Linked DNA regions of Homo sapiens: region 2 is linked to region 1. Evidence: fine-mapped expression QTL. A gene starts in region 1. The other region holds a variant in brackets. All regions are shown on one strand. Distances are between the middles of the regions.

What was found.
Region 2: its variant is fine-mapped to the expression of PAFAH2 in whole blood (INTERVAL, PIP above 0.99).

Annotation. Positions count from the first base shown.
Region 1 is chr1:25,989,335-26,004,350 of GRCh38, reverse strand. It overlaps PAFAH2 (platelet activating factor acetylhydrolase 2), which reads left to right and starts at 6,288. Exons shown (of 11, transcript NM_000437.4): 1 at 6,288-6,326; 2 at 13,488-13,624; 3 at 14,750-14,903. The coding sequence starts at 13,535. RefSeq lists enhancers at 6,143-6,192, 6,203-6,292, 6,463-6,542, 10,269-10,780.
Region 2 is chr1:25,955,224-25,970,239 of GRCh38, reverse strand. PAFAH2 (platelet activating factor acetylhydrolase 2) reads left to right here. Exons shown (of 11, transcript NM_000437.4): 11 at 8,157-10,473. The coding sequence ends at 8,251. It also overlaps the pseudogene RNU6-110P. Among named protein-coding and RNA genes, the nearest start is that of PAFAH2, 35 kb to the left of the region's middle. The variant C/G (reference allele first, on the strand shown) is at 6,251.

The DNA of each region.
Region 1 (15,016 bases):
CGCTTGAGCCCAGGAGTTTGAGGCTGCAGTGAGCAATATTTGTGCCACTGCACTCCAGCCTGGGCGACAGAGCCAGACCCTGTTTCTTAATTTAAAGGGAAAGGAAGGGTGGGGAAGGGAGGGGAGGGAAGGGGAGGGGAGGGAAGCGGAGGGGAGGGGAAGGAAGGGGAAGAAGAAGGGGAAGTGGAAAAAAAAGAGAGAGAGAAAGAAAGAAGAAAGAAAGAGAAAGAAAGGAAGGAGAGGAAAGAAAGAAAGAAAAAGAAAAGACTCTCCTATGTGAAGATGAGGAGGTTGGGCATTTAGGCACCAACTCTCTTGATGGTTGAAGGTTGCCCTTGGGATACATAACACGCCTGTTCCTCCTGGTTCATAGATACTTAAGAAAGCTCTCAGGCAAGGAAGCCAAGAGAAGCAGGCTCTTGTGTGGTGGAGCCCTGAGCATGCTGAAAACTACCACACTGGCAAGGGAACTCAGAGAAGGGATGAGGGGCTATGAGGCAGGTGTCAACACTGTCCGCTGTTACCTCTTTGAGCCTCTGTTTTCTCATCTGAAAAATGGAAAAGACATGACATACTTCACAGGAAGATTAAATGTAAAGTATTTGAAAGTTACCTAATGACATGGCTGACACATAGGAGATAATCAATAAATGGTAGGTATGCTTGGGCTCAGCTCAGATGCCAGCTCCTCAGAGAATCCTTCCCTCCCACCCTATTGAGAGTAGCTCACTCCCTTCATTCTCCACCAAAGCAGTATCCTACTTCCTGTGAAGCATTTAACATAGTATATAATTATCTTGGTTATGTGTTTGTTTGGAGTTTTGTTTTTGTTTTTGCTTTAGAGACAAGGTCTCACTCTGTCACCCAGGCTGCAATGCGGTGTCGCAATCGTAGCTCACTGCAGCTTCAAACTCCTAGGCTCAAATTGTCCTCCCACTTCAGCCTTGTAGTAATTAGGACTACAGGCATGCACTACCACGCCCAGCTATTTTCTTTTTTAATTTTTTATAAGGCAGGGTCTCACTATGTTGCCCAGGCCAGTCTCAAACTCCAGGCCTCAAGTGATCCACCTGCCTCAGCTTCTCAAAGTGCTGGGATTACAGGCGTGAGCCACCACGCTCCACCTGTTTGTTTGTTTAACTCTGTCTCTCCTCACTAGAATGAAAGCACCGTGTGAGCAGGGAATTGGTCCCTCTTATTCACTGCTTTATATGCAGTGCCAAGCATAATGCCTGGGACATACTAAGTGCTCAATACTTTTTTTTTTTTTTTTGAGACAGGGTCTCACTCTGTCGCCCAGGCTGGAGTGCAGTGACGCGACCTTGGCTTACTGCAACCTCCGCCTCCCAGGTTCAAGCAATTCTCCTGCCTTAACCTCCCTAGTAGCTGGGATTACAGGTGCCCACCACCGTGCCTGGCTAATTTTTGTGTTTTTAGTAGAGACGGGGTTTCGTCATGTTGGCCAGGCTGGCCTTGAAATCCTGACTTCAAGTGATCTGCCCGCCTCGGCCTCCCAAAGTGCTGGGATTACAGGCATGAACCACCGCACCTGGCCTCAATACATATTTTTTGAATGGAAGAATGATTACAGTAGCAAAGTAAGGAAGGACAATTCCTGTTCTTGACCTTTGTTAAGCACATCTTGTTAACAAGATGTTAAAAAGGATTCATTTGAACTCCACTTGGGTCCCAATGCTGATAAAGACTAGGTGTAGCTATATGCAGAACCAGACCTAAGTCAGTTTCTCCATCACTAGTGCATTGCCCACTGACTTGTAAGCTATAATACAAGAAAGAGCTAAGAGTACTGGAGCAGTTTTCAGCTAAGGGCAAGGACATTTTGGCAGCGCTTGTTTGAAGACAGTGATTTGAAAAGAATAAAGCTATTGTATAATTTTGCCTCTTTGTCTCTTCCCACAGTCAGAATTATTGAGAAAGTAATGAAGTTTTAGCTCCAGAACCTCTTCTCAGGCCCTGGAAGGAGACCTAGCAATGTGTTCCCAGGTCATACGTTTTGCAAATTTTGAAAAAGATATTTTTAAATTCTTTTTCTTTCTTTTTTTTTTGGTGGATCTTACTCTGTCGCCCAGGCTGGAGTGCAGTGGCACGATCTCAGCTCACTGCAGCCCCCACCTCCCTAGTAGCTGGGAATGCAGGCACATGCCTCCACACCCAGCTAATCTTTGTATATTTAGTAGAGATGGGGGTTTCATCATGTTGGTCAGGTTGGTCTCGAACCCCTAACCTTGGGTGATCCACCCGCCTCGGCCTCCCAAAGTGCTGGGATTACAGGCATGAGCCACGGTGCCCGGCCTAAAATTCTTTTTCTTAAAGAGAGCCCCCCAAAACTGTGTAAGTTTCAAGCCCCAAAACTTGGATCCATCCCGGCCCCCTCCCAAGTCCAAGCTGCTTAAGTAACCAGTGATCCATGTTTAGTTCATTGAACCCTTGAAACAATTCTATAATATAAATACTATTGTCATTCCAATTTACAGATGAGGAAACTGAGGCTTAGGGAATAGTCATTGCCCAAGTTCTCACAGTTAGTAAGTGGTAGAGCTGGGATTTAAATTCAGTAGCCTGTCTCCAGAGACCAGACCCTTCACTCCCTTCACTAGAGTGCTTGATAATGGTGTCTATTTGTTTTCTTGTCCATTTTTCCCCACTAACTAGGAAGTCCCCAAGGACACAAAGACAAATCATTTCTTTTTCTTTTTTCTTTTCTTTTCTTTTTTTTTTTGAGATGGAGTCTCACTCTGTTGCCAAGCTGGAGTGCAGTGGCAAGATTTCAGCTCATTGCAATCTCTGCCTCACAGGTTCAAGTGATTCTCTTGCCTTGGCCTCCTGAGATTACAGGCGCACGCCACCATACCTAGCTAATTTTTGTATTTTTGGTAGAGATGGGATTTCACCATGTTGTCCAGGATGGTCTTGATTTCCTGACCTCGTGATCTGCCCACCTCGGCCTCCCAAAGTGCTGGGGTTACAGGCGTGAGCCACCGCGCCCGGCCAAGACAAATCATTTCTACATGCCAAGCATACAGCCCAGAAGAGACGTCACCATATGTTGGGATGTAAGAAAGAGGAAAGTAGCCCCCAAAGTCCAGAGGCCAGCCTGACACTCACAGCCAGGACTTGGCCTTGTCCTGTTGAACATAAACAACTTCATAGAACATCAACAGCAGACAAGGCCACTCTGTGACTGTAATGGATCAAAACACAAATAGGACCACTCTGTCATCATGTCTGAACACAAACAAAAAATGGATATTGTCCAAACCATGAAAAAGACCAACCCCCCGTCCGTGCTAAAATGAGAGACTGCTGCTTCTTACCTATGACAGCTTTAGCCTTGGTCTAGCCTCCCCTCCTTCTAGATACATTTTATCAAGACCCCCAGTCATAGAATTACCCTTGCTCTTGACAGCATCCAATCCAAAGCCAAGCCCTGCTTCCTTAAACTCTCCCCAGATTGTCTAACAAAAGCCCAAATTCTGTAAATTCTTTCTTCCACCTTCCTACAGAAATGCACCCCCTTTGCCCTTATTTCCCCATTGCCTGCCTTCTCTCTTGCTGCAATGAATAATTAATACAACTTCTTTAATACAGGTGTGTTTCCGGTGGTCTTTGACTGGAATGGCATCGACACAAGTATCAGCTATCAGTGAGCATAAAATGTTATTATCAAAGTTAAAAAATGTTGCTTCTCAAAACTAGTTGATGATAAGAGACGGAAAGTAGTTGTTCCTTCTGGAGGATGGGTGGGGGTGATTGATTACAACTGAGAAGCCAACCTTTCAGGATATTGGAAACGTCCTACATTTTGAAGTAAATGGTAGTTATAGCAAATGTTTTTAAGAAGTTAAGCTGTATACTTTAGTGCCCATTACATACTTTATTGTATACCTATTCTACCTTTATTTTAAAAGTTTTGTCCACTGGTGGTGCGTGGTGGCTCACACCTGTAATCCCAGCACTTTGGAAGGCCAAGGTGGGCAGATTACTTGAGGCCAGGAGTCCAAGATCAGCCTGGCCAACATGATGAAAACCCATCTCTACTAAAAATACAAAAATTAGCCAGGTGTGGTAATGTGCCTGTAATCCCAGCTACTATGGAGGCTGAGATGGGAGAACTGCTTGAACCCAGGAGGCGGAGGCTGCGGTGAGCTGAGATCCCGCCACTGGGCCACAGAGCGAGACTCTGTCCCCCCCGCCCCCCTAAAAAAAAGGAAATCCAAAGCTGGTCACCCAAATACCAACTTGAAGCAATTTAGCAACAAAGTAAAGGCCAGAGTTGGGATGGTAGCTGATAGATTTGAAGGGAACTTTGGGCTACTGGAGGATGAGATCTATGATGAAAATGCTGGAAAATCAACCATTTGCTTAAAAAGGTAAAGGCATTTGGGTTGTTTATCCTAGAAAAGACCGGATTGGAAGGAAGTATAGTTAAACTCAACTGTTTTATTTTGCAACAGGGAAGAATCTGATTGTGCCCAAGGAAGAGCTTCCTAACTGTGACAAAGGAGGTAAAGGAGGTGGTGACATGCCCATCCCTGGGAAATTTTAAACTCAGCTGGCCAGCAAATGGCTCCAGCATGGCCTGGTCTGGGAGTAGGAGACTGAAAGAAATGACCTCCAGCTGTCCCTCTCATGACCAAGGACCTCTGGCTTGTCGTGAGTGTTCTGGCCAGCTGCACAGCACGGATTAATGGGCCAAAGGGAGCCGCTCTCTGATCTGCGCTAAGCTTTTCAGGTTCTGTGGCCACCGCCATCAGCCACAGATTTAATGAGATCCGAGGCTTAATTACCACAGTGCAGGGCTGCCAGCACTCTCTCCTGATGACTTTATCTTGGCTCCTGGAAGGATGGGGGTGACAACAGTGTGTCGGCAGGAGAGGAGAGCCTAAAGCAGGGACTCTGGACCCTGGTGTTTCGGGGGGATGTGGGCTGCAAGAGTAGGGTGGAGGGGGCGACTGCAGGACTCAGTACCTGACCTCAAAGAGCTCACAATGTGTCAAGAGTTAAGACCTCTAATACAGGAGATACCCAAGGCAGTGTGAGTCGACTCACATGTGCGAGGCACACACAGATGTCGGCGGAAACTTTGGAGGCATGAACAAAGCTCCCAGAGGAGGGGCGCTGAAGGGTGGGGGGTGGGGCGTGGGGGAGTGCAGGTTGGAGAAGACCTTGAATGTCAGGCTAAGCAGTTGGGACTTCACTTCATAGGTAGTAGAGGGCCGTTGAACGTTTTTGAGCTGCCTGAACGATCCAAATTTCCTATAGAAGTTTACAGAACTCCTGAGGATGGGCTCTGCCTAACGCCCACTCCCCCGAGAATACTCTCCTTCCATCCCTCACACTTAGCTGCAGCCAGCACTGAACTTAATGCCATACTCTGAAACGTCCTTCACAGTCTCTGTACTCCTGGCTACGTTCTTTCCTTATATCGGGTCTCAATGTTAACAAACATCACTCCCTCTAAAAAGCCTTGCGGACACCGCCCTTTTCCCCCAAGCCTGGCCAGAGGCCCCTTTTCAAGGCTCCCACGCTTGCTGTGTCTCCCCATGAGATCACGGCTCTGTGCTGTCATTATTCATTTGTCTGAATTCTCTGCTAGACTGTGATTCTGTTGAGGCTAGGAGCGGTATCTTGTCCATCAGTGTCGCTAAGAACCAGCATTAGACAGTAATGTGGGATGGATGCGGCCCAGCAGATTACTCGGGTTCCTCCCCTTTCTCTGCCAGGGAGTCTTTTGAGGACAATGGAAAATCACAGGTGTCAACAGATGCAGGCTGGTAGGGAATGTCCCCTTAATTTGAATGATCAGTCTATTATTCTTACAGGAAGCAAAGTGTGCAGAAGACACAAAACAAACTCCAACCTCCTCCCACCTCCTTGAGAATAAAGCGAAGCGGGGACCATTTCTAGGCACGCCTGAGGACTATTTGAGGAGGGTGAGGCGGAGGGTTACGCACGGGACTAAGGCAAAACCCTCCGCTCGAGAGCAGAAATCGCGGCGGCACCTCTTCAGGCCACCAGGGGGAGGAATCACACCGCATCCCAGGCCTTGGGCGGTTTCGCACGACCACGCGGGGCTGGACGGTCGCGTAGAACTCTGGGAGGTGTAGTTTTAGAGTTGTAATGCGCAATCTCGCGCACTGTACATCGGGAATTGTAGTTCTAGATTGAGGAACGAGAAGTGCTTCCAAGCGTCCATTTTGAGCCTTGGAAACTACGACGACCAAAGGGCCACGGGTTCATGGGTCGTTTCTCATTTCCGTCGAGTTAAACGTCTGGGGCTGCTTCTGAGGAATCAGCTTGACTGGGTAAGTTTGATTGGAGAAAACACCTATATCTCAATTGAGCTTCCTGCAGACTTTTGTATTCTGGCCCGGTTTGGGGCCTCGGCGTCTCTCAGTCATAGGAATTGCACATTAATCTTCGTCCTTTACGTTTCCTATTCAGACACCTGTAGCCACCCGCTCCCTTGACCCTCCCACGGTCGCCTCGCACTTTTAACGGCCAGTGCCCCTGGAATCCCCACTGAGCTCCCGTCCCAGGACCCAGCCCCCGCAGCCCCACCTTGGACCCCACAGCCCTACCCTGATTCCTCGGCCCTACCTTCACCCTGCAGCCTCACATCCCTGAACCCCGGGCTTCTTTATGCTCCTCCACCCTTTGTGTACTTTACTCTTACTCTCAGTTTTCTGTTTTTCATGGCGGTGGAAGAAGGGTCCCCATTCCTTCTTTCCGATCCGCGATTACCCTGGACTCGAAGTCAGCAGACCCGGTTCTAGGCCAGCTCTGCCTCTCACCCTCTGTGACCTTGGGCAAATCATACAACTCTGGGACTCAGTTTCTTCCTCTCTAAAACGGAGATGACTGTTGCTCCATCAGTCTCAGGTGAGGAGTGTTGAGGAGCCAACAAGCTAGTATGTGTGAAGATGCCTTGTAAACTGTAAGACCTTCACAAGAGACAGAGATTATTTTTATCACAATTATTAATGCTCTGGAACACTCTTATCAGGCCTCTTCTCTAGCTCTGCCACCTTGTTGCTCAATCTCATCCCTCGAGTGCTTGGTGTCTTCATTGTCTACGAGCTGGATGATATTTCCTCACTTCCTCCAGAGACCAAAGGTCAGGCCAATGAGCTTTTAGTCTTCAGAGAGCTTTGTCTGAAAGGAAGCACAAGAGAAGTGCTTATCTTGGACTGTATCTTGAAATAGCCAGTGATGAAAGTGTCACACAGCTGGCAGAGCAGCAGTCCTCTGCTCACCAGAAACAGGGTCCCAGCAGGAGAGGACAGCTGCAACCTAAGCCCCATCCATTCCCTCTGGGCTCCTCTGGGCCTGTTCAGTAGACACTGGCTTTGGTAGGGGTGTCTGAGGCCTGAAAAGGCTGCTGGGAAAGAATCTGTTTTGCCAAAGGGCTTAATCCAGGAAAAATGAGAGACCTTGGCTAGGAAAGAGAGACATAGCATTGTTAATTAGTTCCTAACATTTTATAAGCACTGAAAATGCACCAGGCCCTAGGCAATATTTTCACTTACGAAGTATCCATTTTACGTATAAGGAACTTGAGAGGCATGTAGTTAAAATAATTATAGTTGCCTCCTATGGTTATAGTACCTTCTATCCATCGAGTGCTTTACATGCATTATTTAATCCTCATCAACAATCTCGTGAGTAGTTACTATTTCTTTTTTTTTGAGATGGAGTCTCGCTCTGTCGCCCAGGCTAGAGTGCAGTAGCGCGATCTCGGCTCACTGCAAGCTCCGCCTCCCGGGTTCACGCCATTCTCCTGCTTCAGCCTCCCAAGTAGCTGGGACTACAGGCGCCCGCCACCAGGCCCAGCTAATATTTTGTATTTTTTTTAGTACAGACAGGGTTTCACCGTGTTAGCCAGGATGGTCTCGATCTCCTGACCTCCTGATCCGCCCGCCTCGGCCTCCCACCGCGCCCGGCCCATAGTTACTATTTCTTTTTGAGACAAGACCTCGCTCTGTCACCCAGGCCGAAGTGCAGTGGCACAATCTTGGTTCACTGTGGCCTCCGGCTCCCAAGCCCCAGCAATCCTCCTACCTCAGCCTCCTGAGTAACTGGGACTGCAGTTGCATACCACCACATCCAGCTAATTTTTTTTTTTTTTAATTTTTTTATAGAGACAGGATTTTGCCATGTTGCCCAGGCTGGTCTTGAACTCCTGGGCTGAAGCAATCCTTCCCATTTGATCTCCCAAAGTTCTGGGATTATAGGCATGAGCCACTGCGTCTGGCCATAGTTATTATTTCTGTTGTGAGAATAAATTATCAGAAGCTTAGAGTTTGAGGAACTTGTTCAAGATCACACAGCTAATAAGTGACAGGGGTAGAATTCAGAGTCATCAAAACCTTTGTCCCCCATTATTTCATATAGCCTTATTTTTAGATCAAAAACAAAGATTAAAGAAGACTTGAGATGGGTTTAAATCATAGCCAAATGAAGGAACATTTATTGAGTCCCAACTATATGGGGAAAGCATGCAGATAGACAGTTTGGTCTACAAAAAAATATAAAACCCAATCTTTACCCCCGGAGTAGATCTGAAGAGATGAGGCATAAGTGTGCCAAAAATTAAATAGTATTCATTGGATAAATTAATTATTGAGACCAGCTATATGCAGGGCACTACATTAAGTCTAGTGATAGGAACATGCTTCTGGGTGGCCATGGGGATTATAGCAAGTGAAATCGTAGTCGTGAAAATGTGGACCAGAACACAGTATATACTCAGTAAGCGTCTGCTGCATGCATACGTGTCTGAATGAAAGAAAAGTTCATCCAGAGACATTTCTAATCAAAGTCTAGACCAGAGGTTCTCAAACTTTGCTGATCAGAAACACCTGGGAAGCTTTTACAAACGAATTGATCACTAGAAATAGGGGCCCCCAGAATATACATTTTTGAAAAGCTTCCCAGGTGATTGTGACAATAGGTTCAGGAACCTAAGATCTAGATTCTCTATGGACCACTGTTGCAGGCAAGTCACTGGTTGAAAACTGCTAGAATAGGTGTTAATCCAAGAGCTGCCCTAAAGTAGTCTAAGATTGGTTACCAGATAATGGATGTGGACAGTGATCAGAGATGATAGGAGGAAAGGTTGGAAGGACCTGGGAAAGCTTCACAGAGGACTAGAGATTTCACTGGGCCTCAGTGGATGGAGAGGCTTCTGGACAGGTACTACCATGAACTATTTAGACAAAGTGAGCAAAAGAAGGTAGAGACACATAGACTGATTTCCTTGGAAAATTCCATGACTTTTATTAGAAATGACTCTGGATGCTTTGTGTAAATGTCTCTTTGGCAAAATTTGCAACTCAGATTGGATTTTTCCATCTCTCCATCCTATTTGGACATCAGTCAATGTGAGTCCAGGAAATAAAGATTCATTTGCGTGTTAGCTTCACTCTGGCCAATTAGCTTCTGTAATTTTTATTTCCAAACAATTTAGTTGATGATCTTCCCAGAAACTTTCCAGGAGCACCAGAGAGTTCTGCTGTCTTCTGTTTGGCCATTTCCAAGTCCGCTTATCCTGATTCCTATCCCAAGTGCTGTTCTCTATGCAGAGTGAGACAAAAATCTGTTCCCATAAGAAGCTTAAGGACTATTGTCCTGGTTCCCCAATCTTAAAACCTGACTTATTGGCTCTTGACTCCCCAGATTCACTCAGTGGCCAAACCCTAGTGTTTCTACTTTTCACTCAATCAGCACATTTCTTGGATGCTTCCTAAGAGTCAGGTACCACACCAGATGCTTTGAATGCATTATTTCATTTTATTTCCACAGCAACCCTGTGAGGATGGATAGTGTTCCCATTGTACAGATGGGGAATCAAGCTTAGAGAGATCAGATAACTTGCATAAGATAAGAAAGCTAGGCAGGGCTGGCACGGTGGCTCACTCCAGTAATCCCAAGCACCTTGGGAGGCTAAGGCAGGATTATCGCTTGAGCCCAAGAGGTTGAGACCAGCCTGGGCAACATGATGAAACTCCATCTCTACAAATAAATACAAAAATTAGCCGGGTGTGATGGCAAGTGCCTATAGTCCCAGCCACCCAGGAGGCTGAGGTGGGAGCATCACTTGAGCTGGGAGGGTGAGGCCACAGTGAGCCACTGCACTCCAGCCTGGGAGACAGAGCAAGACCCTGTCTCAAAAAAAAAAAAAAAAAGCTAGGCACCAAATGAGCTGGGCCTCCAATGTGGTTCTTTCAGACTATCTCTCATGGACATGACCTCATTTCCAGAGTAGATTCCAACTTTTTAGCTTAGCACTTGAGGGACTGCTCCTCCCCAAATCTGGTCACAACTTTCTCTTCTCACCTTGCGTTGTTTCTCACACAAGCTTCCTTCTTACCGTGCCTTTGCTTGCTCTCTCCTGCTTGAAAGAGCCTTTCCCATCTTCCCCTGCTCTCTACTTCCAAGCTAAAGGAGCACTGTTTCTTCTCAGAACTCCTGTGGTCTTTTATCTGCTTTTCTTTTATGACAGTTGAACTTGCAGCTGCTTCATTGTCATGTGAGTGACAGGTGTCTTGTGGCCCCAGCAGTAGGTCTTCCATTTGCAGACCTCAACAACAAGCGATGGGGAAAGGTCAGGGTCTCAGGCTAAGCAGAGCTCATCCCCCTTCACTCTGGCTGAACAACCCACTGACATCAGGAGCTTAGCTTCTTTTTCAAAAGAATTGGGTTTGTTTTTAAATTTGCTAAAAAGAAACAAAATGAAGATGCTATCTGTAGTAGAAAGAAAATAATTTCTTATCTTTCAAAGTTAAATAGAATGATGTTAGGATTGTTGAGACCAGACAAGTGGCAGCTGACAACCAGGAGACTGTGTGTTGTTATCATCGTTCTGCTTGTGACTCTGAGCAGCTCACTTAATCTCTCCGGACCTTGGTGTCTTCCCTGGTAAAGCACGTGTATGTACGCGGAGAAGGGGAAAACGATTGTGGAGGGGATTGACGGAAATGCTCCCTTAGGTCTCTTCTTACCCAGACATGCTTTGACTGGAACTCCTGAATCCCTCCCAGAGCATCTTAAAGGAAGCAGAATAATTTAATCATTAACATGTGGACCCCAGACTCAGTGTGTATCCATTTAGATGCTTTTGGTTACAACCAAAAGAAATCTAACTTCAGTTGGTTTAACCAAGAAAGGGAACTTACTGACTCATGTAACTAGAAAGTCTAGGAGTGGGTCAGGTTTCAGGTATGGTCTAATCTGTGGATTCTTAATGTCTTCACAAATGGGCCTCTATTTCTCTGTGATTCTTCTGGTTTTCCCATCCACCATGGGTATCTTCATCCTCAAGGTGGCAAAAGTGGCTGCTGTGGTTCAAGGCCACTTGACAGGTGACATCTGCACATCACACTAGTCCAACACAGGAAATAACTTTTCTCCCCTCAACCGTCATACCAAAGTCCCGGGTTTTACGCCTATTGGACCAACCTAATGCCATACGCGCACTTTTCATCCAAATACTGACCGGAGAATAAGAAGGACTGATTGGCTCCGGTTAATTAAGGCTCAACTCCGGAGGTTAAGGAGGGGTCAGCCCCACCCAAATCACAAGGCAAGGGACACTGGGAAGTTTGACATTCTCATGTTACAACCACATTGTCCATGATCGAATTCTGGCTCTGCTCGCCATATGTTATTGGGTAAATTGCCTTTGTCAAGCATCTGTTTCCTCATCTGTAAAATGAGATAATAATACGTATCTCAGAGGACTGTTGAAAGAATTAAATAAAATAATATGTGAAAAGCACTAAACATAGTTCCTGGCACAGAGTAAGTATGATGATGATGGTGGTGTTGGAGATGATGAAACTGAAGAGGGTTAGGGGAGCACTGGCACCAGTTTAGGAAGCAGCTGAGCCGTAGGAATGTTATCTAGTCAGGAGTGTGCATGCCTGTCATGCTGAAAGCATCTGTTTGATCTACTGCCCACATCATACTTTTCCCTACCTCTGCTTTTTTTCCTCTTAGGATTTTTTCTATAAGTGCTTTCTTCCTCCTCCCCTGCCTCTCAACTTCCTCATCTTTAAAGGCCCAGCATAAGTGCTACCCCATATTCAGTAGTTTAAAAGCTGGGTGTGGTGGCTCTTACCTGTAATCCCAGCTACTTGGGAGGCCTAGGCAGGTGTATTGTTTGAGCCCAGGAGTTTGAGACCAGCCTGGACAACATAGCAAGACCCTGTCTCTCAAAAAAATCAAACGGTTTTAAGAAAAAGCTTAGTTCAGTAACTTTGCATCTGTATAACTGAATCTCCCCCTGAGCAGGATCAGTAATGGTTAAGAACTTAGCTTCCGGATTAGGCAGAGATGGGTTTGCCACTGGGTAACTTGGGAAGGTTATTCAACCTCTTTATGCCTTAGTTTCCTCATCTGTAAAACAGGGTCTTTTGTTTGTTTGTTTGTTTTTTGAGACAGGGTCTCACTCTGTCACCCAGGCTGGAGTGCAGTGGTGCAATCTCGGCTCACTGCAACCTCTGCCTCCCAGGTTCAAGCGATTCTCTTGCCTCAGCTTCCTGAGTAGCTGGGACTATAGGTGCCTGCCACTGCACCCGGCTAATTTTTGTATTTTTAGTAGAGACGGGGTTTCGCCATGTTGGCCAGGCTGGTCTTGAACTCCTGACCTCAGGTGATCTGCCCGCCTCGACCTCCCAAAGTGCTTGGATTACAGGCGTGAGCCACCGTGCCTGGCCAAAACAAGGTCTTAATAGTACCTACCTCAGGCCAGGCGCGGTGGCTCACGCCTGTAATCCCAGCACTTTGGGAGGCCAAAGTGGGTAGATCACGAGGTCAGGAGATCAAGACCATCCTGGCCAACATGGCGAAACCCCGTCTCTACTAAAAATTAAACAAAAAATTAGCTGGGCATGGTGGCACGTGCCTGTAATCCCAGCTACTCAGGAGGCTGAGGCAGGAGAATCGCTTGAACCAGGGAGTCGGAGGTTGCAGCGAGCAAGATCATGCCACTGCACTCCAGCCTAGCAACAGAGCGAGACTCCGTCTCAAAAAAAAAAGTACCTACCTCAGAGAGTGGTTGAGACAATGAAATGATGCAATGTGTATAGTGTCTATAAAGAGGTCAGTACAGTGCTAACCGTAAATAATGGATCTTAGTGGTTACTATTAGCCTCAGGAGAGCAAGGTCTGTGTGACAGTCTCTGCAGCAGTAGCTGCTGGATAAACATACGTTAATGGGCTGTAAGGAGTATGGATGGCTCTCTTTCGTCTTCCAGCCATCTCCTCACCCTAGCAAAATAAAAAACAACCCCCAACCTTGGCAAAGGCAATGTAGCAAAGTAGTAGGTGCAAGATTTAATGAGCGACGGCAGGGAGGATGAGGTGCTAAGGAGGGGTGGACAGGGTAACAGATAACACATTTCAGCAACAGGAAGCCGAGAGGAAACCAGCAAGCGGCTGCTGTTCTGTGTTCCCCCATCCAGCCAGCAAGTTCAGCTCCGGCAAGTCATTTGATTCACCCGGTGATGAAATGGGGGTCAACCAGTCTGTGGGCTTTCCACCTGTCACAGGACCCCACCTCGTAGGCTGTGGGGATGTGATGGAGGGTCAGAATCTCCAGGTAAGTGTCCCCAGCTCCCTTTCTTCTGTTTGCACTGCTTCTGCCGGCACCGTGACTTACTGATCACAAGTCTGATCCTGTATTCCCACGGTGGGGAAAATGAATTAGAGCGGGTCTGGATTTGGTTATCAAGCCCCCAGGTCTGTCTTCCTGAGCTTTTTCTTCCTCTTTCCAAACATTAGAAACATCCCAATAGACAGAGATAATGCGTTCATTTTCCACCTAGGAGGAAAGGGGGGACTCTAGCTTTAGAGGCAGCTCGCAGATCCTCTCACCTTTCTTGAGGGCAGATGCCTGATCTTGGAAGGGTTTTAATCGTATCATAATCTGAGTGTGTGAGAGAAAGAGCCATGGGCGTGTGCCTTTGGCCTTGGACTCCCTGACCTGGGTAGGGGGACAGCTTCCTTTTCTCTCTCCTGCCTTGATCTGTTTTCCCCTCCTGCTTTGACTTCTGGACTGGTCCTCTATCTTATATATATGTATATATAGTAGAGACGAGGCCTTGCTATGTTGCCCAGGCTGATGTCTAACTCCTGGCCTCAAGCGACTCTCCTACCTCGGCTTCCCAAAGTGCTGGGATTACAGGCATGAGCCACTGTGCCTGGCTTAGTTCCTAGGTCTTTCTCTGCTAGCCCTTGGACTTCCTGTCTCCCTTGAGAGGCACACACTTCCTAGTAACCCCTCACCTACTCCCATGTAAAATGAGTGTGCTGTTGCTTCCCAGGGGCTGTCCTAGAGCAGAGTGGCCTGGATGAGCTACCAAGGCCACCCTGTTCAGCACGAGAACTAATCTCTAACTCCTGGGGCTCCTCTAGGCCTAGGTTCAGGGCCAGATTTAAATCTTTCATTGTCCCAAGCACTCAAATATTTTTGGTGCCCCCTCCCACAATGTAATTCAAAATACAGTTGGCTATTTGAAATAACGTAAGCTTTACATATATGCTAAAAATCAAATTGCTTCTTTCCAGATTTCTGAATGTGAAATTCAGGCATGCTAATTGAAACTTCAGTTTCCCTGTTTTGGTGCCCTGTTTTGCTGGTGCCCCAAACACCTGCTGAGTGTGGCTGTTGGGAAATCTAGCCTGGGCTCCTTGCTCTGAGCAGCTGCTCTCTTCTTTCCTACAGGGGAGCTTCTTTCGACTCTTCTACCCCTGCCAAAAGGCAGAGGAGACCATGGAGCAGCCCCTGTGGATTCCCCGCTATGAGTACTGCACTGGCCTGGCCGAGTACCTGCAGTTTAATAAGCGCTGCGGGGGCTTGCTGTTCAACCTGGCGGTGGGTAAGGGCTGGCCTGACCTCTGCATGCTTTCCCAGTTGCTTGGTTATGTTCCTGGGAGATCCCCAGGTGGACGCAGTACCTTATAGCCTGCAGTGTCCAGGCTTTTGTAAGGG
Region 2 (15,016 bases), 34 kb after region 1:
CTGCCTCGGCCTCCCAAAGTGCTGGGATTACAGGTGTGAGCCATCGCGCCTGGCCGTCTCTGTGCTCTGGACACTAGCCTTTTAGTTGGATGACCTGAGTGCATTCACATTCCTCACAAGTGCACAACAAACAGCCTGGATTGAGTTTGCATTTAAAACACATCTGTCTTACGCATTTATTGACTTTTTGGAAGTAAATTTTCATTTTTATATTTCTGCCTGTTCGTTTCATCTTACACATCGTGAGCCTTGATTCCAGCCTGTGTTTGGAGACCTTAGGGTCAATAAGAGATTTTAGGGCATCATTCTTATCACCTGGCAAGCAGGGAATGGACCCATGTCTCAAGACTTTAATGGCGCCTGACTGCCTGGTCCTCAGCCCCCTTCCCCTGTCCCCTCATAGGCACCATGTCATTATAAAAGCTTAAGATGAAAGATGATGGGAAGCCCACCATGGCACGATTGGGCTCCCTTTAAAAGCAATACCCGTTGAGCTAAGATACTCACTGTTAGAAACCTGCTAGCAGACATGGAAATGGGAGGTAGGAGGCACTTAGACTGAAAGAAGATTTTTGAGGACTTACTTTATGCCAGGCCTTCTGCTCCTGCTTTATCGCGTGTAATTCTAGAGACAGCCCTTTCCAGTAGATACCTTTATTATTAACTGCATTTTACAGGGGAGGATACCAAAGCGTAGGAAATTTAAGTAATTTCTTTAAGGTTATCTGGTTATCAAGTGGCAAAGCCAATATGTAACCTAGACTGGCCAATTCCAAGGCCCATGCCCTTAGTCACTTCACTATGCTGGCGGTGACTCTGGTGACAATTCAGAGTGATAAGTTCCATGGCCACAGTAGGCACTCAGTCTTTAGACTGTCCACACGGAGGACAGTCTCCTAACTTTGACAGGAGAGGAAGAACAGCTAGGAAAGGGGGCTTCCTTGACAACACAATGTTTGCCTTTAATCTTAGTGGAGGGTTCACAGGCAGGAAAGGGCGAGGGTCTTCTGGACAGAAGGCATAAATGCTTGAGTGGGCCTGGTCAGGATTGGGAAACTGTGTTTAGTGTATCTGGAGCTCAGGAGAGTGAATTGTTGAAAGGCAAAGATAGAGAAGTGGGCAGAAGCCAGAGGAAGAAGCCTATGGATTTGCTGAAGTGAGTTTGAATGTTATTCCACAGGCTGTCAGGAGCCCCTGGTGAGTTCTAAGCAGGTGAATGTTGTGATTAGACTTGTGTTCACAGTCTGGTGCATTGTGGAGGATGGGGCAAGGTGAGAGGCAGGGAGCTCTTAGGTAGGAGGCTTTTGCAGTAATCCGAGTGATAAGAGATAAGACAGTCTGAAAAAGTTGGGCACAGTGGCTCACGTCTATAATCCCAGCATTTTAGGAGGCTGAGGCAGGAGGATTGCTTGAGCCTAGGAGGTTGAAGCTGCAGTGAGCTGTGATTGTGCCACTGCACTCCACCCTGGGTAACACAGTGAGACCCTGTCTCAAAAGAAAAGAAAAAGGCCAAGGCTGTGGGCTTGGGCAAATTAGCTTTACAAAGAGAGAAAAGCTTTTAGTAGGCACACAGTACATTGTCACATGGGAAACTAAAATAGGCTGTAAGTGGCTCAGCTGAACCTCTCACTCTGAAAAAAATTCCTTCTGAGAGCACTTGTTTGGCTGTTCTGGGGATATGATCTTCTATGAAGACTGGTGCTTCCTTCATATTAACTCCATGCAGCTCCTGTCTCCACCTACTCTCCTCTCCCACTCTCCTGGAAGACTATTTCACACCTTTTTTCTCCTCGAACCTCTCACACCTCTTCCCTTATCCTGTCTCTCAGTTAACTTTGCCTCCCACTTCACCAAGAAAATGGAAGCAACCAGCACTTCCTCAGACTCCCAACACCACCTCTCCCCACCTTCCTGTGTATAATCAGCTTTCCTTTCGGTTACTAGAGTTCCCACCTCAGTTGCCTCATTAAGGCCAACCCCCCAACACAAGATTCCATCCTCTTCTGTCTGCTCAACATGATTGCGCCAGTGATTTTTCCCTCTTTATTTTATTTATTTATTTATTTATTTATTTAGGACAGAGTCTCACTCTGTCACCCAGGCTGGAAGGCAGTAGCTGCCATCTCAGCTCACTGCAACCTCTGCTCCCAGGTTCAAGCAATTCTCCTGCCTCAGCCTCCCGAGTAGCTGGGATTACAGGCACCCACCACCATGCCCAGCTAATTTTTGCATTTTTAGTAGAGATGGAGTTTTGCCATGTTGGCCAGGCTGGACTCAAACTCTTGACCTCAAGTCATCCGCCCACCTCGGCCACCCAAAGTGCTGGGATTACAGGCGTGAGCTACCATGCCCAGCCCCTCTTTACTTTAGATCATCAATTTTTCCCTCTCTGCTGGTTCATTTCATGCTGAAGTTTCTCCTAGAAAAAAATAACTTTCTCTTGACCTCAATATCCCCTGCAGTTGCCACCCATCTCCCTGTTCCCCATCACAGCAAAACTCAAAAGAATGTCTGCTTTCGCTTTTTCTAATTCCTCTCTTCCCATTCCCTCTTAACCCACTCCAGGCTTTTGCATCACAGTACTCCATCAAAACCGCTATTGTCAGGGTGCCCAGTGACCTTCACAATGCTAGCTCCAGTAGTTCTCATTCCCCAACTTCTGGAACTCTCTGCAGCTTCTGATAAAGTTGATGGCCCCCTCCTCTGGGAAACCCCCATCTTCACTTCAGAGATCCACACTGTGGACTTCCCCCTATCTCCATGTTTGGGCCTCTTCCATCTGCTGTGCTGCTTGCGGGGCCCAGTGCCTGGACCTCTTCTAATGGCTTTCCGTGCCAACTCCATGCTGGGGACTCCCTCTGCCACTGCTCCCCAACTCTACTTAGTCATCTAATAGAAGTAACAAACAAAACCAATTTCAACTGCACTCTTTTCCTTCTTCGTTAATCGTAGCTCCATCCTTCTAGTTACTCAGGTCAAAGTCTTCATCCTTGTCTCTTCTCTCATGCCTCCTACCCAGTCCCTCAAACAATCCTATTGGCTCTACCTTCAAAATACACATGGAATTGAATCACTTGTCACCACCCCACAGCTACCATCCTGTCCAAATCATCTCTCATCCAAATTAGTGCAGTGGTTTCCTAACTGGTCTCCTCACTACCACCCTTGCCAGTCCCTCTCTTCACAGTCTTTTTTTTTTTTTTTTTTTGAGAAGGCGTCTCACTCTGTCGCCCAGACTGGAGTGCAGTGGCGCGATCTCGGCTCACTGCAAGCTCCGCCTCCCAGGTTCACGCCATTCTCCTGCCTCAGCCTCCCGAGTAGCTGGGACTACAGGCGCCCACCACCAGGCCCGACTAATTTTTTTGTATTTTTAGTAGAGATGGAGTTTCGCCATGTTAGCCAGGATGGTCTTGATCTCCTGACCTTGTGATCTGCCTGTGTTGGCCTCCCAAAGTGCTGGGTTTATTTGTATAGATGTAGGGGGTACAAGTGCAATTTTCTTACACAGCTATATTGCACGTGGTAAAGTCTGGGCTTTTAGTGTACCCATCACCCGAATAGTGAACATTGTATCCAGTAGGTAATTTTTCAGCCCTCACCCCTCTCCTACCTGCCCACCTTTTGGAGTCTCCAGTGTCTTATTTTTCTACTCTGTATGTCCATGTGTACCCATCATTTAGCTCCCACTTATAAGTGACAGCATTCGGTACAGCATTCGGTATTTGACTTTCTGTTTCTGAGTTATTTCACCTGGGATAATGGCCTGCGGTTCTGCAAAACGTGATTTCGTTCTTTTTTTATAACTGAGTAGTATCCCATGGTATATCTGTACACCACATTTTCTTTATCAGATCTTCTGTTGATGGGCACTTAGGGTGATTCCATATCTTTGCTATTGTGGCTAGTGCTGTGATAAACATATGTGTGCAGGTGTCTTTCTGGTGTAATGATTTCTTTCCCTTTGGGTAGATAGCCAGTAGTGGGATTGCTGGATCAAATGGTAGTTCTATTTTTAGTTCTCTGAGGGATCTCCATACCGTTTTCCATGGAAGTTGTACTAATTTACATTCCTACCAACGGTGCATAAGTGTTCCCTTTCTCTGCATCCTCACCAGCATTTATTGTTTCTGGACTTTTTAATAATGGCCATTCTGACTGGTGTAGTATCTCATTGTGGTTTTAATTTGCATTTCTCTGACGGTTAGTGATGTTGAACTTTTTTTTTTAAATATGTTTGTGGGACACTTGTATGTCTTCTTTTGAAAAAAATGTCTATTCATGTCCTTTGTCCACTTTTTTCTTTTTTTGAGTCCAGTTTCTGCAGAATGCCTACTTTTTAATGGGATTATGTGTTTTTTTTTTTCTTGTTGAGTTGTTTGAGTTCCTTGTAGATTCTTTTTTTTTTTTTTTTTTTTTTTTTTTGAGACAAAGTCTTGCTCTGTCACCCAGGCTGGAGTGCAGTGGTGTGATCTCGGCTTACTGTGACCTCTGCCCCCCAGGTTCAAGTGATTCTCCTACCTCAGCCTCCTGAGTAGCTGGGATTACAGGTGCCCGCCACCATGCCTGGCTGATTTTTTCGTATTTTTAATAGAGACAGGGTTTCACCATGTTAGCCAGACTGGTCTCAAACTCCTGACCTCAAGTGATCCACCAGCCTTGGCCTCCCAAAGTGCTGGCGTTACAGGCGTGAGCCACCATGCCCAGCCTTTCCTTATAGATTCTGGATATTAGCCCTTTGTTGGATATATAGTTCAGAAATATTTTCTTCCATTCTGTAGGTTGTCTATTTACTCTGTTGATTGTTTCTTTTGTGGTACATAAGCTTTTTAGTTTAATTCAGTCTCATTTGTCTGTTTTTGGTTTTGTTGCATTTGCTTTTAAGGACGAATTCTTTGCGTGAGCCAATGTCCAGAAGAGTTTTTCTTCTAGGATTTTTATAGTTTCAAGTCTTATGTTTAAGTCTTTAATCCATCTTGAGTTAATTTTTATATATGCTGAGAGATATGGGTCCTGTTTCATTCTTCTTCATATGGCTATCCAATTTTTCCAGCACCATTTGTTGAATAGGGTATCTTTTCCCCATGTATATATTTTTGTTGACTTTGACAAAGATCAGTTGGTTGTAGGTATGGGGGCTTTATTTCTGGGTTCTCTATTCTGTTTCATTTATCTATTTTTCTGTGTTTATACAAGTAACATGCTCTTTTGGTTACTATAACCTTGTAGTATAATTTGAAGTTGGGTCATGTGATGCCTCCAGCTTTGTTCTTTTTGCTTAAGGTTGCTTTGACAGGCTCTTTTTTGGTTCCATATGAATTTGAGGACTTTTTTTCTAATTCTGTAAAAAATGGCGTTGGTAGTTTAATAGGAATTGCGTTGAATCTGTAAATTGCTTTGAGCATTATGGTCATTTTTAACAACATTGATTCTTCCATTCCATGAGTGTGGGATGTTTTTTCCATTTGTTTGTGTCATCTACAATTTCTTTCATCAGTATTTTGTAGCTCTCTTTGTAGAGATCTTTCACCTCCTTGGTTAAATGTATTCCTAGGTTTTGTTTTGTTTTGTTCTTGTTTTTGTTTTTGTTTTGGTGGCCATTACAAATGGGATTGAGTTTATGATTGGGTTCTCAGCTTGATTGTTATTGGTGTATAGAAATGCTACTGATATTTTTGTTTGTTTCTTCATTTGTTTTTTATAGAGACAGTGTCTCACTTTATTGCCTGGGCTGGTCTCAAACTCCTGGGCTCAGGCGATCCTCCTGCCTCAGCCTCCCAAAGTGCTGGTGTTATAGGCATGAGCCAGTGCACCCAGAAAAATCACCACCACTGATTTTTGTACACCAACTTTGTATCCTGAAACTTTACTGAAGAGTCATTTTATTTATTTATTTATTATTTTGGCTTCCTCAATCATGGTATTATTATTTATTTCTCTTTAAAAATATGGAAAGCTTAACGAATTTGCATGTCATCCTTGTGCAAGCGCCGTGCTCATCTCTGTATTGTTCCAGTTTTAGTATATGTGCTGCCAAAGCGAGCACTGAAGAGTCTTTTCTTCATAGAGCAGCCAGAGTGATCCTTTTAGGAATTTAGTGAGATCTTCTCACTCTTCTGCTCCGAATTCTCCAGTGGCTCCCAGTCTCCCTAAGAGCCAAAGCCAGACTCGATTATCCTGCCAGGTATATGTCATGTGGCCCTCCAGTCCCTCCTGGCCTCCTCCCCTGCTGTTCTTCCCTTGGCTCACTTCA[C/G]TCTCACCACATGAGCCTCGAACGCGCCAGGCACGCTGCAGCCTTAGGGCCTTTGCACTGCTCCTCCCTCTGTCTAGAACATTCCTCTCAGATAGTCTCGTGGCACACTCCCACTTCCTTCAAGCCTGGCCTCAAATCTCACCTTCTCAGTGAGGCCCACCCTGACCACCCTTTTTAAAACATTGGCCTGGCCAGGCACCGTGGCTCACGCCTGTAATCCCAACACTTTGGGAGGCCGAGGCGGGCGGATCACAAGGTCAAGAGATCGAGACCGTCCTGGCCGACATGGTGAAACCTCGTCTCTACTAAAAATACAAAATTAGCTGGGTGTGGTGGTGCATGCCTGTAGTCCCAGCTACTTAGGAGGCTGAGGCAGGAGAATCACTTGAACCTGGGAGGCAGAGGTTGCGTTGAGCCGAGATTGACCACTGCACTCCAGCCTGGTGACAGAGCAAGACTCCATCTCAAAGAAAAAACAAACAAACAAAAAACATTGGGTCCTTCCTTTCTCCCTTCACTCCAACCCCTGGCCACCACCAGTGCTTCCCTTAACGGGCTCTATTTTTTTTCCATGGCACCTCTCCCCTTTTCACATCCTATATAGTTATTATGTTTATTGTTTGTCTCTGCCACTAGATGATGAGCTCTGTGAGGACAGCAGTTTCCATCTGTTTTGTTTGTGGATATATTTTTAGCTCAAAGAACAGAGTGTGGCACATAGTGGATGTGCTTATTGTTTTTTGAATTAATGACTATGTAGTACTTATACATTGAGGACCTATTCCGTGCCAGGTTCCTGGCAGGGCACTGGGAATCCAAAAATGCATGAGAGTGGTCCCTGCCTTCTGTCCCAGAGTCTGTTTGTTTTGAGGAAGGACACCATTCATCTGCTTAGCTTGCCCTGCTCCCTCAGCCTGAGGGCTTGGACCCTTTGTGCCTGTTCTTGCCGTGTAGTTACCCCTATTGGCTGTGAGCTCAGGGCCCCTTCTTGAGTCATTCCTGGAGTTTCGCTGCTCCATGATGTTGCTGTCCTCTTGCTCCTGCCCTTCACTGAAGTGGTCCTGGATTTGCACCCACAGGCTGAGCTGTCAGATACTGCTTTTTGCCTAGTAACCTCCTTGAGCCTGGAACTAGACTTTTCATTTTCTCAGCCTTTTTTTTTTTTTTTCTGAGACATGGTCTTGCTGTTGCCCAGGTTGGAGTGCAGTGGCATTATCACAGCTCACTGCCGCCAACTCCTTGCCTCAAGCAATCCTCCAGTCTTGGCCTCCTGAGTAGGTAGGACTTCAGGCACACACCACCATACCTAGCTAATTTCTTAATTTTTTTGTAGAGTTGAGGTCTTGCTACGTTGCCCAGGCTGGTCTAGGAACTCCTAGCCTCAAGTGATCCTCTTGCCTCAGCCTCCCAAAGCACTAGGGTTACAGGCATAAGCCACCATGCCCAGCCCTCTCTGCCTTTCTGACTTGGATTTGAATTCTGTCTCTACCACTTAATAGCTCTAATGACCTTGGGCAACTCAGGTAGCTTCCCTGATCCTCAGTTTCCTGAATTACATAATAAGATTAGTATTAATACTTAGTTCATAGGGATATGGTGAAAATTAAATGAAACCATGAATGTAAAGCATTTAGTACAATCCTTAGAATGAATTCTCCATCAATAAATGTTACCCTCTGTTATTATTATCGTTATTGAATTGTTATGGATTATGTAAGTCATTTATAAAGGCACTGAATAAATGATAGTTATCGTTACCGCCACCACCACACAACCCCACCAAAACCAGTCCTTTTGGTATCCCAGGCGCTCCTCTCTCTAGGATGACCCCTTCAATGCATGTCAGCTACTCTTTGACCAAACCTCACAATGATTTGCCTAATGTTCCTGTTTTTTTCCTTTTCAGACCTGAAAGAAGACTATAATCAATGGAACAACCTTATTGAAGGCATTGGACCGTCGCTCACCCCAGGGGCCCCCCACCATCTGTCCAGCCTGTAGGCACAACTGGCCATTTGTAAAGTCACTTCAGCCAAGTTTTCATTTGGGAGCTACCCAAGGGCACCCATGAGCTCCTATCAAGAAGTGATCAACGTGACCCCTTTTCACAGATTGAAAGGTGTAATCACACTGCTGCTTGGATAACTGGGTACTTTGATCTTAGATTTGATCTTAAAATCACTTTGGGACTGGGATCCCTTGCTGATTGACAAACAGACTTTCTGGGACCTTGATGGAGTGGGGAACAAGCAGTAGAGTGGGACTGGGGGAGACCCAGGCCCCGGGCTGAGCACTGTGAGGCCTGGATGTGAAGACTCAGCCCAGCGAAGCTCATTCCCTTACCCCCGGCCAGTGCTGCTGCTTCAGTGGAAGAGATGAAGCCAAAGGACAGAATGAAAATCCCTACCTTCAGAGACTCTAGCCCAGCCCAACACCATCTCTTCCTACCTCTCAGCCTTCTCCCTCCCCAGGGCCACTTGTTGAAGTCTGAGCACTTTATGTAAATTTCTAGGTGTGAGCCGTGATCACATTTTCTATTTATTTCCAAGTCTTCTCATTGTATGGAACATAGTACTACTTATACTTACAGTAGTAAGTTATACTTGTGAGCCCACAGAGTGGCAGACAGCATGGCTCTCACAGCACAGGGAGAAAAACTGAGGTACACAGAGGTACCTCAGAAGCTCTGGATGTCTTTGGGGGTTTTGCTAAGTGTATCTTGATAGGAAACAACAAAAGCAGGTTGAGATGGGGAAGATGACAGAACAACAGTGTTAAATGGCCATTTGCACAGGCCTTTGCCACAACAGAGAAGTAGTTTGGTCAGCTAAAACTCAGCTGCAGCCTGGACAGTAGAGCGAGACCCCATCTTAAAAATAAAGAAGGCTGGGCGTGGTGGCTCATGCCTGTAATCCCAACACTTTGGGAGGCCAAGGCAGGCAGATCACTTAAGGCCAGGAGTTCAAGACCACCTGGCCAACATGGTGAAACCCCGTCTCTACTAAAAATACAAAAAATTAGCCTGGCGTAATGGCAGGCGCCTATAATCCCAGCTACTCAGGAGGCTGAAGCAGAAGAATCACTTGAACCTAGGAGGCGGAGGTTGCAGTGAGTCAAGATCGCGCCACTGCACTCCAGCCTGGGTGACAGAGCAAGACTCTGTCTTAAAAAAAAAAAAAAGAAAAAGAAAAATTTAAAATAAATAAAATTTAAAAACGCAGAAGGCCACTCCCAGAGAGGCCTAGGAGTACCTTGGTCATTTTTTCTTGCCTCAAATATTATAAACCTCCAACTTGCTCAGAATCAGGGTGCTTTTATTGTCTGTTTTCTGGCTCTGAGGCCCTTGCCCCAAATTTAAGTCAGATACAGACTGAATTTCCATTCTGTTCTGTTTATAATATGAATGATATTAATACTCTTGTTTGCTTAATGTTATGTTGGAATTTTCTGTTTAATCTGCAGTAGAGCAAGATGGAGAGCCATCTGGAATTGACTTCCTTCTGTCTTTCTTCTGTGTTCGCTTACTACTTGGGCCCATGTGGGAAAAAAACTTTAAAAGGAAGGAAGTCTTCTTAGGGATCCAGTTCAAAGCTATTTGGGGGCATCAAACTGAAACTCTCTTCTCCACTACTCAAGACTTCGTGCCTCAGTCCAAGTAGGTAAGAGCAAAAGGGAAATGCATCTCTACACAATGGCCCATGGTCAGGGCCACCAGAGCAAGCTGGGCCTAGATCTCCACCTGTCAGTGACTGGCCATTCTAAGAGGTGAAACAGCAGATCGTTGAGGCTGTGAGGGAGGATCTTTGAATTCCCATGAGACATAGCATAAGAAGGGTATCATTAAAGCCCTGGGCTCTAAAGTTACAGAGCCTGGTTTTGAGTCCTGGCTCCACCACTGCCAACTGGGTAAATTTGAGCAAATGGTATTCTCTTTCTTATCTCAGCTCCTGCGTTTCTAAAATGAGGGTCTGCGTTATGAATAGTTAGGAGGATTAAGTGAGAGGATGTATAACCCATGGGTTACTTAAAAGTATATTTCCTACCTTCCAAACATGAGATTTTTCTAGTTATAGTTTCTTTTCTAGCTTGATTGCTTTGTGGTCAGAGAAAATGACCCATATGGTTTCCATCCTTCAAAATTTGTTGAAACTTGGTTGTTGGCCTAGTATGAGATCAATGTTGTAAATGTGCCATGTATGTTTAAAAAGACTATATATTCTGAAGAAGTTGTTGGCTTGCTCTTTTACTCAAGAACACATCATAGATTTCTGTCTTTTTTTTTTGAGATGCAGTCTCACTCTGTCACCCAGACTGGAGTGCAGTAGCATGATCTCGGCTTACTGCAACCTTCGCCTCCCAGATTCAAGCAATTCTCCTGTCTCAGCCTTCTGAGAAGCTGGGACTACAAGTGCACGCCACCACACCCAGCTAATTTTTGTATTTTTTTAGTAGAGATGGGGTTTCACCATATTGGTCAGGCTGGTCGCAAACTCCTGACCTCAGATGATCCACCTGCCTCGGCCTCCCAAAGGGCTGGGATTACAGGCATGAGCCACCGTGCCGAGCCCATAGATTTCCTTCTATGAGAGCACAGACAGATATATAATGGGGCCTTCCAACTACCACATGGGCACCAGAGACCCTCAGCACTTGCAGAACCAGCCGTAGGCCAATCCTGAGCATACGCCACCCTTGTGCTGATTCCACAAATGCTGAGAGGCCGGTTCTGGCAGTAGCAGCATGTGAGACCCAGGTTCTACCTTAGCTCCATAAATAACACAGGTAAATTTTACAAAACCATGAACAAGAGACCTGGAGCCTCCCTAGTGAAGGGAGTGTTCCAGAAACTAGATCCCTTTCCTTCATTCAATTCATGTTCTGGTAATCACTCATTTATCCAGCAAACACTAGAGTATGTGAATTTTCCATATAATTGAAAATTATCCTAGAGGCAGCAAAATATAATATTGATTATTTTGAATGGTAATCTACCAAAAAGATAATACACACACTTTTTAATCAAAGTGAGCTGACCTCGTTCAACCTTTTAGGATGTTCCAGTCAGGATAGACTAGGTTGTATGGTGGTAACAGGCAATCCCAAAAGCAACAAAAGTTTATTTCTTGCCCATGCCACTTGTGCTCTTTGATCGGCTGCAGGCTCTGCTCTGCATCATTTTTATCCTCACTCTAGGATCCAGGCTGGTAGAGCTGCCATTATCAGAAAGTGTTGCTGTTCACCATGGTGGAACAGGAAGAAAGCCTGATGAATCACCCGCTAGCTCTGAGAGCTTCTGCCCGGGAGTGACTCTCGTTATTTCTATTCATGTGTCATAAGCCAAAGCACGTCCTGTGGCCATTCCTAACATCCCAAGAAAGCCAAAATATTTGTGACCAGGTCTCATGTCAGAGAAGTGGTGTCCTCTGATCTAGGAAGGTGCAGAAAGCTGTTTGGCTTGCATGGGGTTGCCCCCTGTGCTGCGTTGCTGTTCAGAGTTGGTGTTGTCTCATTTGTGGTCAGGCTGCAACCATCGCTCTTCAACGCACCAGCCCCTAGCAGCCCTCCCTGGCCACTTCAAGTTTATGACTTTCGATGCGCAATGGACTGATAAATCAGCCACATTATTTAAAACTCTGTCTAAGGGAAAACAAGGCAGTCAGTGAGCAAGGGTTTTAGGGACTCCCTTGCAGCTAAAGTATGTCACCTTTAGCGCATGGGCTTCGTAATCCTCTGACTGCTCCAGAAGGGGTATCACAAGGCCTTTGGTCTCTCATTCTGGTTTTTGGTTAGCTTCCAGGGGCCTGAAGGATACTTCATAAATGGCCTTTAGATAAGCAAGGAAATCCTGATGATAACTGACATGTGCTGATAAATTGCATCCTAGTGAATCTTTTCCAGAAAGAGGATGTCTTGGGTTTCTTTTCTTTTTTTTTTTTTTTTTAGTAGAGGCGGGGTTTCACTGTGTTAGCCAGGATGGTCTTGATCTCCTGACCTCGTGATCCACCCGCCTCGGCCTCCCAAAGTGCTGGGATTACAGGCATGAGCCACCGCGCCCGGCCTGTCTTGGGTTTCTTTGGCATCTTCTCATTCCCCATCCCGCTGCAAGACTCTGTGCCTATGGAGGCCTCCTAGTGGTATAATGTGAAGTTTCTGTGCATGGGATGGCAAGCCAGTTAGGAAGGAAGGTAAGTAAATATCCCTTCCACTTCCTGGACTTCAGACTAAGGCTGGTTGGATTCTTGCTGTGTCCCTAATGCAATCCCCGAGCCCCTTCCACTGTGCATTCTGACACAGCTGCCCCTCTTGTCCTTCCTCAAAAATTCTATTGGGCTCTTGAAATGTCAAATGATGGATTCCAACTCCGTGTCTTGACCTTGTGGGGACCTTCATCTACCCCCTTTTTTTCTGGAGCACCACTTATCCCTAGGCTCACAAAGTGACAGAGGGACAGGAGAGGCCATACTGTATGTTTGGGACTCATCCTCATTAGGAAGCTCACTTTCTATCCCATCATAGCCAGGTGCAGAGGGCAGCTGTCCCTGGCCATAGCTGCAGGGCACAGTGACAATGAGGGTGCTGAGGATGATTGTCGCTGTGTGTCAGGACTGTGCTCTGGGCTGACATGCATCATTTCACTTACTTCTCATGGTAACCCCACCAGCTCAGGTGGCATTGGCCTCATTTTATGTAGGAGGAAACAGGCTTCAAGAAGCGATTTCATCAGGCTCTCAGCAAGAATTTGGCAAAGCTGGGACATAGGCATCAAAGTTTGAGGGTTTTTTTTTTTTTTTGAGATGGAGTTTTGCTCTTGTTGCCCAGGCTGGAGTGCAATGGCATGATCTCGGCTCACTGCAACCTCTGCCTTCAGGGTTCAAGCGATTCTCCTGCCTCAGCCTCCAGAGTTGCTGGGATTATAGGCATGTGCCACCACGCCCAGCTAATTCTTGTATTTTTACTAGAGATGGGGTTTCACCATGTTGGTCAGGCTGGTCTTGAACTCCTGACCTCAGGGGATCCACCCGCCTCGGCCTCCCAAAGTGCTGGGATTACAGCCATGAGCCACCATGCCCAGCCAAGGGTTTTTGTTTTGTTTCGTTTTCTTGAGATGGTCTCCTGTCACCCAGGCTGGAGCGCAGTGGCGCAATCACAGCTCACTGCAGCCTCGACCTCCCAGCCTTAATCCATCTGCCTGCCTCAGCCTCCTGAGTAGCTGGGACCGCAAGCGCACACCACCATGCCCGGCTAATAAAATCTGAGCTCTTAATTACTGTGCTGTTAACCCTAATATACATACTTGGCTTTGCAGTTTCTCCCATTTCTTCAAACTCTCAGGATATAGGGAATGTATTAATCTCATGATCAATTAACTAAAAAATACCAAAATCTTCAGCAACTTCTACATGACCTGTGTTGAGTTTCAGTGATATCCTCAGCATTATTGAGAAATGGGTTGAGGGAGAAAAATGGCTTCACCGGAAACTGGGTCAGGTACTTGGTTGATGGGTGGGGTGTGGGGTGTTGTTTGTTTTTTGTTTGTTTTTGAGACAGTGTCACTCTGTTGCCCAGGCTGGAGTGCAGTGGCATGATCACTGCTCACTGTACCCTCAACCTCCCAGCCTTAAGCAATCCTCCCACCTCAGCCTTCCAAGTAGCTGGGACTACAGGTACATATCACCACACCTGGCTAATTTTTTGTTTATTTTTTGTAAAGACAGTGGTCTGTCTGTGTTGCCAGGGCTGGTCTCAAACTCCTGGGCTCCAATGATCCTCCTGCCTCAGCCTCCCAAAGGGCTGGGGTTACAGGTGTGAGCAGTTCAGGGACTAAGAACACAGTCTTTGAAATCAGACAGCTCCAACACTATTAGCCCTGTGACTTTATGCTAACTCATTCACTTCTATGGCCTTTAATGTTCTTATTTGTGAAATGGGGATTCTAATAGTATTTAACTCATAAGGTGGTTGTGATAATTAAATGAAATAATGCATGTAAAGCACTTAACATGGTGGCTAGATTAAGGACTTAATAAACATTAGCTATTACCAGTCTTGTTTCATTTGGGCCTCCTTACATAGCTGTAAGGTTAGGTACAATGGGCCCTTGAACTAAATGGCCCCAATGATCTTGGTCTAAGTGCTTTTTTTCTTTTTCTTTCTTTTTTCTTTCTTTCTTTCTTTCCTTCCTTCCTTCCTTCCTTCTTTCCTTTCCTTTCCTTTCACTCTTTTCCTTCCTTCCTTCCTCCTTCTTCCTTCCCTCCTTCCTTCCTTTTTCTCTTTCTCTTTTTCTCCTTTCTTTCTCTTTCTTTCCCTCCCTCTTCCCTTCCTCCCTCCCTCCCTCCCTCTCTTCCTTCCTTCCTTCTTTCCTTCCTTCCTTCCTTCCTTTCTTCCTTCCTTCCTTCTTGTCTGAGTCTTGCTGTCACCCAGGCTGGAGTGCAGTAGTGGGTTCACAGCTCACTGAAGCCTTGAATTCCCAGGCTCAAGCTATCCTCCTGCCTCAGTCTCCTGAGTAGCTGGGATTACAGGCATGCACCACCATGCTTGGCTAATTAAAAAACATTTTTTTTTTGTAAAAACAGGGTCTCCCTATGTTGCCCAAGCTGGTCTCAAACTCTTGGGATAAGTGATCCTCCCACTGCAGCCTCCCAAAGTGCTAGGATTATAGGCGTGAGCCACCATGCCTGACCATTGGTCTAAATTGTTATTCCAGCTTCTACAGTCTCACGGTTACCTTCCTCGAGTGGACCCTCCTAACTGCCAGCCACCTACTAC